2 linked regions of the Homo sapiens genome follow. The protein of the gene in region 1 interacts with the protein of each later gene in a biochemical or structural test. Each region holds a gene or a part of one and is shown on either strand. Other genes may lie near its edges. The genes, in order: POLD2 and POLH.

Region 1 (3,497 bases):
TCCAAGGGCAGTGACTCCAGGAAGCAGGCATGCATCCTGGAGTCCTAGGTGAGAATTCACCAATGTGGTTGTGGAGAACTGGCTTGTTTTGCCCGTTGGGGTGACTGGAAGGAGTGGTAGCACCTGGGGCTCCCTGCTCAGGCCTGATGCCACTGCTCCCCAGGGACTGTCCTGGCTGTGTTTGGCTCCGTGAGAGACGACGGGAAGTTTCTGGTGGAGGACTATTGCTTTGCTGACCTTGCTCCCCAGAAGCCCGCACCCCCACTTGACACAGATAGGTGAGCAGCAGTTCTCGGGAGCTGGAACCAGCTCATGGTCAGTGGAATCTTTGAGTTGCACCTAGGAGGGGCTGCCTCCCTTCTCGGCACCCTGGAGGACCCCACCTTCTCCCGCAGGTTTGTGCTACTGGTGTCCGGCCTGGGCCTGGGTGGCGGTGGAGGCGAGAGCCTGCTGGGCACCCAGCTGCTGGTGGATGTGGTGACGGGGCAGCTTGGGGACGAAGGGGAGCAGTGCAGCGCCGCCCACGTCTCCCGGGTTATCCTCGCTGGCAACCTCCTCAGCCACAGCACCCAGAGCAGGGATTCTATCAATAAGGTATGGAGCCCACCTGGCTGCATTCAGCCCCAGCCCAGGAGCCTGCAAGCCTGTAAGACCCTCCTTCCCCAGGGCGAGTAGGGTACCCTGTGAGGTCTCGCAGGTCGGTGGGAAGCGCCCTGCAGTGACTCTGGGGCCTCCTGCAATGGGGCTCCTCATGCCCAGGCCCTCGCTGAGGATGGTGGGAGGCTTGAAGGGAGTGAGGGTCTATGGGACAACAACTGCATCTTCCAGCTGGTGGGGCTCTACTCTCCTCTGAGCCTGGGACTCGCCTGGGCCTGATGGCCTTCTGGGCTTCTATTCCAGGCCAAATACCTCACCAAGAAAACCCAGGCAGCCAGCGTGGAGGCTGTTAAGATGCTGGATGAGATCCTCCTGCAGCTGAGCGTGAGCGAGCTGGGGGCTGGAGGGGTGATGGGGATTGCAGTCTTCAAAGCTGCCACTGGGCAACAGAAGGCAGGCAGGAGGGCAGGGGGAGTGGCCGGAGTTGGTGTAGGGGGCTCCTTCGGGGCCCTGTGAGCTCTCCCTGCCCTGTGCCTTCCAGGCCTCAGTGCCCGTGGACGTGATGCCAGGCGAGTTTGATCCCACCAATTACACGCTCCCCCAGCAGCCCCTCCACCCCTGCATGTTCCCGCTGGCCACTGCCTACTCCACGCTCCAGCTGGTCACCAACCCCTACCAGGCCACCATTGATGGAGTCAGGTAGCTGGCACAGCCACACTTCAGTCTGACCCAGCCTTTTGCCTCAGGAGGCACAAAGAAGGGAGGGGAGGGAGGGCCCAGGAAGGTGGCAGGGCTGCAGAGGCCCACCTAGCATCTGTTCCTTCTCTCTGGGGCATCCCCACAAGAGCGCCAGATGAGCTCTGGGCTGACCACTATGGGTGGCACCCAAAGCCAAGAGTCAGCTGAGCTTTGCCTTGCAGATTTTTGGGGACATCAGGACAGAACGTGAGTGACATTTTCCGATACAGCAGCATGGAGGATCACTTGGAGATCCTGGAGTGGACCCTGCGGGTCCGTCACATCAGCCCCACAGCCCCTGACACTCTAGGTAACAGGCTCAGCCATACAGGGTGGGAGCAGAGGGCCAGGAGGCCTGGCAGGACCCTGAAGTGCACAGGGTCCCCCTGTGGGTTTGCACTTGCCAGCATTGCTGAGAACTGTCTGAGGAGAAGTTCAGAGGCTTGGCACCTGCTCTGGAAGCTACTCTGGAATCTTAATTCTAAGGCCAATGGCTGCCCACCCCAACGGGCAGCAACAGCAGGGCCAAGGTCTTGTGACAATGTCTGGAGGTGCCCCTATTGTCACACTGGGGGTCTCCTACTGGCCTGCAATGGGAGGAGGGGCTGCAGCCCCACATCCTGTGCAGAGTGCTAGTGCTGAGGCGGAACCCTCCTCAGAGCTGCCCCTTCTCCTCCAGGTTGTTACCCCTTCTACAAAACTGACCCGTTCATCTTCCCAGAGTGCCCGCATGTCTACTTTTGTGGCAACACCCCCAGCTTTGGCTCCAAAATCATCCGAGGTAATTTTTGTCTTCTGGGGGCCCAGGCTGATTTGCTGATTTGCTCTCACCTGGGGACAAGGTTCACAGAGAAGAAAACCTGCATTGTGGAGTCCCCCTGGCCCTTGTGGGATGGACAGCTGAGGTCTTCTGCACAGCTGCCATTTCACTGTGGGAGCCAAGCTGCCTCGCCAGCTGGGCAGGGACTGGAACGGCTCCCAGCCTGTGTGCCTCTCAAGGCTAATCTCTGGTCTCCTATTGTCACTGCCCCACTGTGTGCCAATGGGGACTCCTGTTTATTTCTGGCAGCTTCTCTTTGAGGCAGGACTTACTTGGAACCTACAGTGGGTCCTATGTGACTTCTTTGCAGGTCCTGAGGACCAGACAGTGCTGTTGGTGACTGTCCCTGACTTCAGTGCCACGCAGACCGCCTGCCTTGTGAACCTGCGCAGCCTGGCCTGCCAGCCCATCAGCTTCTCGGGCTTCGGGGCAGAGGACGATGACCTGGGAGGCCTGGGGCTGGGCCCCTGACTCAAAAAAGTGGTTTTGACCAGAGAGGCCCAGATGGAGGCTGTTCATTCCCTGCAGTGTCGGCATTGTAAATAAAGCCTGAGCACTTGCTGATGCGAGCCTTGAGCCCTGGGCACTCTGGCTATGGGACTCCTGCAGGGGTGCCCACAGTGACCATAGCCCATGCACCCACCAGCCGGTCTCCCTCCTCCCCATCCCTGACACCTCAGAATGTGAGCAGTCCGTGCCATGAGCTTGTTTTATTGGAGTGACCTTGGCTCCCTCCCTCTGCCCCTACTCCAACACTGCAGCAACCCCATCTCTTACGAGACTGGCAGGTGGAGCAGGAGCCTCTACACAGCCTCTGGCTCTTAGGTCCCAGTCATGTTTGCACCCCCTCAAAGGGGCAGGACCAGCCCTTCCTTTCAGTGTCCATACCAGGGGCCTTCCATGTGCTGATGGGTGATGTGACTGTGGTCAGCAGGCTTGGGAAGTGCTGCTGCTGTAGCTTGAGTTGGGCTGGGGTCTTGGTAGGACGCTGATCTCAGAAGTCCCCAAAGTTCACTGTGTAGGTCTCTACTGTTGTGAAGGGGAATGCCTGGCCAGTGGCTATCTCCTCCTCTTTCTCCTCCTCCTCCTCTTCCTCAAACTCGGGTTCCAGCTGGGTCTCAAACTCAGGCTCCAACTGGGTCTCAAACTCGGGCTCCACCTTGGTCCCAAACTCGGGCTCCACCTCGGTCCCAAACTCTGTCACCACCTCTGTGTAGGTCTCAGTCTCCGACTCCTCCCAGCCAGCGGTGGTTGGCGGTATGAGGCCCCAGGGCTCTATGGTAGTGCTCAGGGTGGTGGCAGGGGCAGGGGGCAGCGTGGGAGGCACAGTGTGGGGGCCTAG
Region 2 (3,731 bases), on another chromosome or scaffold:
AAAGTCTGCTTCTAAAGCAGAAACAGCTTAATAATTCTTCAGTTTCTTCCCCCCAACAAAACCCATGGTCCAACTGTAAAGCATTACCAAACTCTTTACCAACAGAGTATCCAGGGTGTGTCCCTGTTTGTGAAGGGGTGTCGAAGCTAGAAGAATCCTCTAAAGCAACTCCTGCAGAGATGGATTTGGCCCACAACAGCCAAAGCATGCACGCCTCTTCAGCTTCCAAATCTGTGCTGGAGGTGACTCAGAAAGCAACCCCAAATCCAAGTCTTCTAGCTGCTGAGGACCAAGTGCCCTGTGAGAAGTGTGGCTCCCTGGTACCGGTATGGGATATGCCAGAACACATGGACTATCATTTTGCATTGGAGTTGCAGAAATCCTTTTTGCAGCCCCACTCTTCAAACCCCCAGGTTGTTTCTGCCGTATCTCATCAAGGCAAAAGAAATCCCAAGAGCCCTTTGGCCTGCACTAATAAACGCCCCAGGCCTGAGGGCATGCAAACATTGGAATCATTTTTTAAGCCATTAACACATTAGTGCTGCCCTCAGGCTTGCCTGTAGGATTTAATATTTTTTATCTTTACAGATCTTTATCTTTAATATTTTATCTTTACAGATTTCCCTGAGAAAGGGAATTATGAAATTTTTAATACAAAAAATAATCCATTTAGGTGCTGAGTTACGGTCCCATCTCTTCACAGGCATGGATTCTAATCCCACTGCTGACAGAGATGTAAAAATTCATCCTACCAGAGTTTTTAATCTTTAGCATTTAGGGAGGCAGTGTCATAAAGTAAAAAGTGTGTGGGCCTTGGAGTCTAAGAGACGTGGTTGCAAACTTAGCTCTGGTTATTGCAATGAGGGCCTTGAACAAGTCATTTTCTTCACATTCTCATCTGTAAAATGGAGATAATACCTTACAGATTATTGCAGATTAATAACAATGTATTCAAATTATGTAACTCGGCCGGGTACAATGGCTCACGCCTGTAATCCTAACACTTTGGGAGGCCGAGGCAGACAGATCACCTGAGGTCAGGAGTTTGAGACCAGCCTGGCCAACATGGCAAAACCATCTCTACTAAAAATAGAAAAATTAGCCAGGCACGTTCCAGGCACCTGTGATCCCAGCTACTTAGAGGCTGAGGCAGAAGAATTGCTTTAACCTTGGAGGCGGAGGTTGCATTGAGCTGAGATCATGCTAGTGCGCTCCAGCCTGGGCAACAGAGCGAGACTTCATCTCAGAAAATAAAAAATAGGGGCCAGGCACAGTGGCTCATACCTGTAATGCCAGCACTTTGGGAGGCCAAGGCGGGCAGATCACGAGGTCAGGAGTTTCAGACCAATATGGTGAAACCCCATCTCTACTAAAATTACAAAAAAAATTATCCAGGCGTGGTGGTGCACGCCTGTAATCCCAGCTACTCAGGAGGCTAAGGCAGGAGAATCACTTGAACCCAGGAGGCAGAGGTTGGAGTGAGCTGAGATCGCGCCACCGCACTCCAGCCTGGGCAACAGAGCGAGACTCCATCTCAAACAAAAACAAGAACAAAAACAAACATAAAGTTGGCACAGAAAAGGGACCAAGTTTAAAAAAGGGTTTTAAATGTAATGAGACTTGCATAGTTAAAAAAAAAAAAGGGATTATTTTTATTTTTATTTTTTATTTTTGAGACGGAGTCTCCCTCTGTCGTCAGGCTAGAATGCAGTGGTGCGTTCTCAGCTCACCGCAACCTCCGTCTCCTGGGTTCAAGCAATTCTCCTGCCTCAGCCTCCCAAGTAGCTGGGACTACAGGCACGTGCTACCACACTCAGCTAATTTTTGTATTTTTAATAGAGATGAGGTTTCACCATGTTGGCCAGGATGGTCTCGATTGCTTGACCTCATGATCCGCCTGCCTCGACCTCCCAAAGTTGCTGGGATTACAGATGTTAGCCACCGATCCTGGCCCCCCCAAAAAAAGGATTTTAAGAAAAACTTCTCTTGGCCGGGCGCAGTGGCTCACGCCTGCAATCCCAGCACTTTGGGAGGCCGAGGCGGGCGGATCACAAGGTCAGGAGATCGAGACCACGGTGAAACCCCGTCTCTACTAAAAAATACAAAAAAAAATTAGCCGGGTGCGGTGGCAGGCGCCTGTAGTCCCAGCTACTCGGGAGGCTGAGGCAGGAGAATGGTGTGAACCCGGGAGGCGGAGCTTGCAGTGAGCCGAGAGCGCGCCACTGCACTCCAGCCTGGGTGACAGAGCGAGACTCCGTCTCAAAAAAAAAAAAAAAAGAAAAACTTCTCTTTAGGCTGGGTGCGGTTCCTCATGCCTATAATCCCAGCATTTAGGGAGGCTGAGGTGAGTGGATTGCAGGAGCTCAGGAGTTCGAGACCAGCCTGGGCAAGGTGGCAAAACCCCGTCTCTACTAAAAAAAATTAGCTGGGCTTGGTGGCAGGCGCCTGTAATCCCAGGTACTCGGGAGACTGAGGCAGGAGAATTGCTTGAACCTGGAAGGTGGAGGTTGCAGTGAGTTGAGATCACACCAATGCACTCCAGCCAGGGTGAGAGTGAGAGACTGTCTCAAAAAAAAAAAAAACAAAAGAAAAACTTCTCTCTAGCTCTGTGACGGGCAGTTCAGATAATACCTTCACCAGATTTACCTGTTTTCAGCTGAAGAATGTGAGATGAAGCCTTGAAACCCTAAAAGTGATATGGTAACTAGGGCAGGTCTTTCTGTACATAAAAGTGACTTAATAAACAGTGAATTTCATACAGGTAAACCCTATTATACCCTCAGTTCTAACCATTGGCCTATCTCTTGCGTTTTGTTCTAATGTAGAATTAGATTGCTACTTGACTAGTTCAGGAACTCTGTTTAGATCTGATAAGTCATAATCAAATCTTGCCAGGCGTGGTGGTTTATGCCTGTTATCCCAGCACTTTGGGAGGCCAAGGCAGGTGGACCACGTGAAGTCAGGAGTTCAAGACAAGCATGGCCAACATGGCGAAACCCTGTATCTACTAAAAATACAAAAATTAGCCGGGCATGGTGGTGGGTGCGTGTAATCCCAGCTAGTTGGGAGGCTGAGGCAGGAGAATCACTTGAACCTGGGAGGCAGAGGTTGCAGTGAGCCGAGATTTCCACTGCATTCCAGCCTGGGCGATAGAGTAACTCTGTCTCAAAAAAACCCACTAGATCATCTCTAGAACATTGCTACTCCCAAGTATGATTTGAGGAACAGCAGCCTCAGTATCACCAGGGAACTTATTAGAAATAGTCTCAGCCTCACCACTATTCCCACTTAATTGTAATCTGATATTAACAAGATTTCCCAATGTGGGTCAGGTGTGGTGGCTCATGCCTGTAATCCCACACTTTGGGAGGCCAAGGTGGGCGGATCACTTGAGGCTGGGAGTTTGAGACCAGGCTGGCCAACATGGGGAAAACCCATCTCTACAAAAAATAACAAAAATTAGGTGTGTGTGGTGACGCATGCGTGTAATCCCAGCTACTTAGGAGGCTGAGGCAGGAGAATCACTTGAATCTGGGAGGCAGAGGTTGTAGTGAGCTGAGATTGTGCCACTGCACTCCAGTCTGGGCAACAGAGTGACACTGTTTAAAAAAAAAAAAATTCCCAATGTGGGCCGGGTGCAGTGGCTCATGCCTGTAATCCCAGCACTTTGGGAGGCTGAGGTGGGTGTATCACGAGGTCAAGAGATCAAGGCCATCCTGGCCAACATGGTG

The links.
Region 2: the proteins of POLD2 (region 1) and POLH form a complex in vitro, tested with the Homo sapiens proteins (one study listed by BioGRID).

Annotation. Positions count from the first base shown.
Region 1 is NC_000007.14:44,113,914-44,117,410, reverse strand, and holds the end of POLD2 (DNA polymerase delta subunit 2), read left to right. Parts: intron 1-163; coding exon 164-278; intron 279-395; coding exon 396-594; intron 595-900; coding exon 901-981; intron 982-1,138; coding exon 1,139-1,296; intron 1,297-1,517; coding exon 1,518-1,645; intron 1,646-2,014; coding exon 2,015-2,116; intron 2,117-2,465; coding exon 2,466-2,626; 3' UTR 2,627-2,731; downstream 2,732-3,497. Other genes in the region: AEBP1 (adipocyte enhancer-binding protein 1 precursor), read right to left, coding at 3,150-3,497. UniProt on the Homo sapiens protein: Accessory component of both the DNA polymerase delta complex and the DNA polymerase zeta complex.
Region 2 is NC_000006.12:43,614,019-43,617,749, forward strand, and holds part of POLH (DNA polymerase eta), read left to right. Parts: coding exon 1-539; 3' UTR 540-3,731. UniProt on the Homo sapiens protein: DNA polymerase specifically involved in the DNA repair by translesion synthesis (TLS). Due to low processivity on both damaged and normal DNA, cooperates with the heterotetrameric (REV3L, REV7, POLD2 and POLD3) POLZ complex for complete bypass of DNA lesions.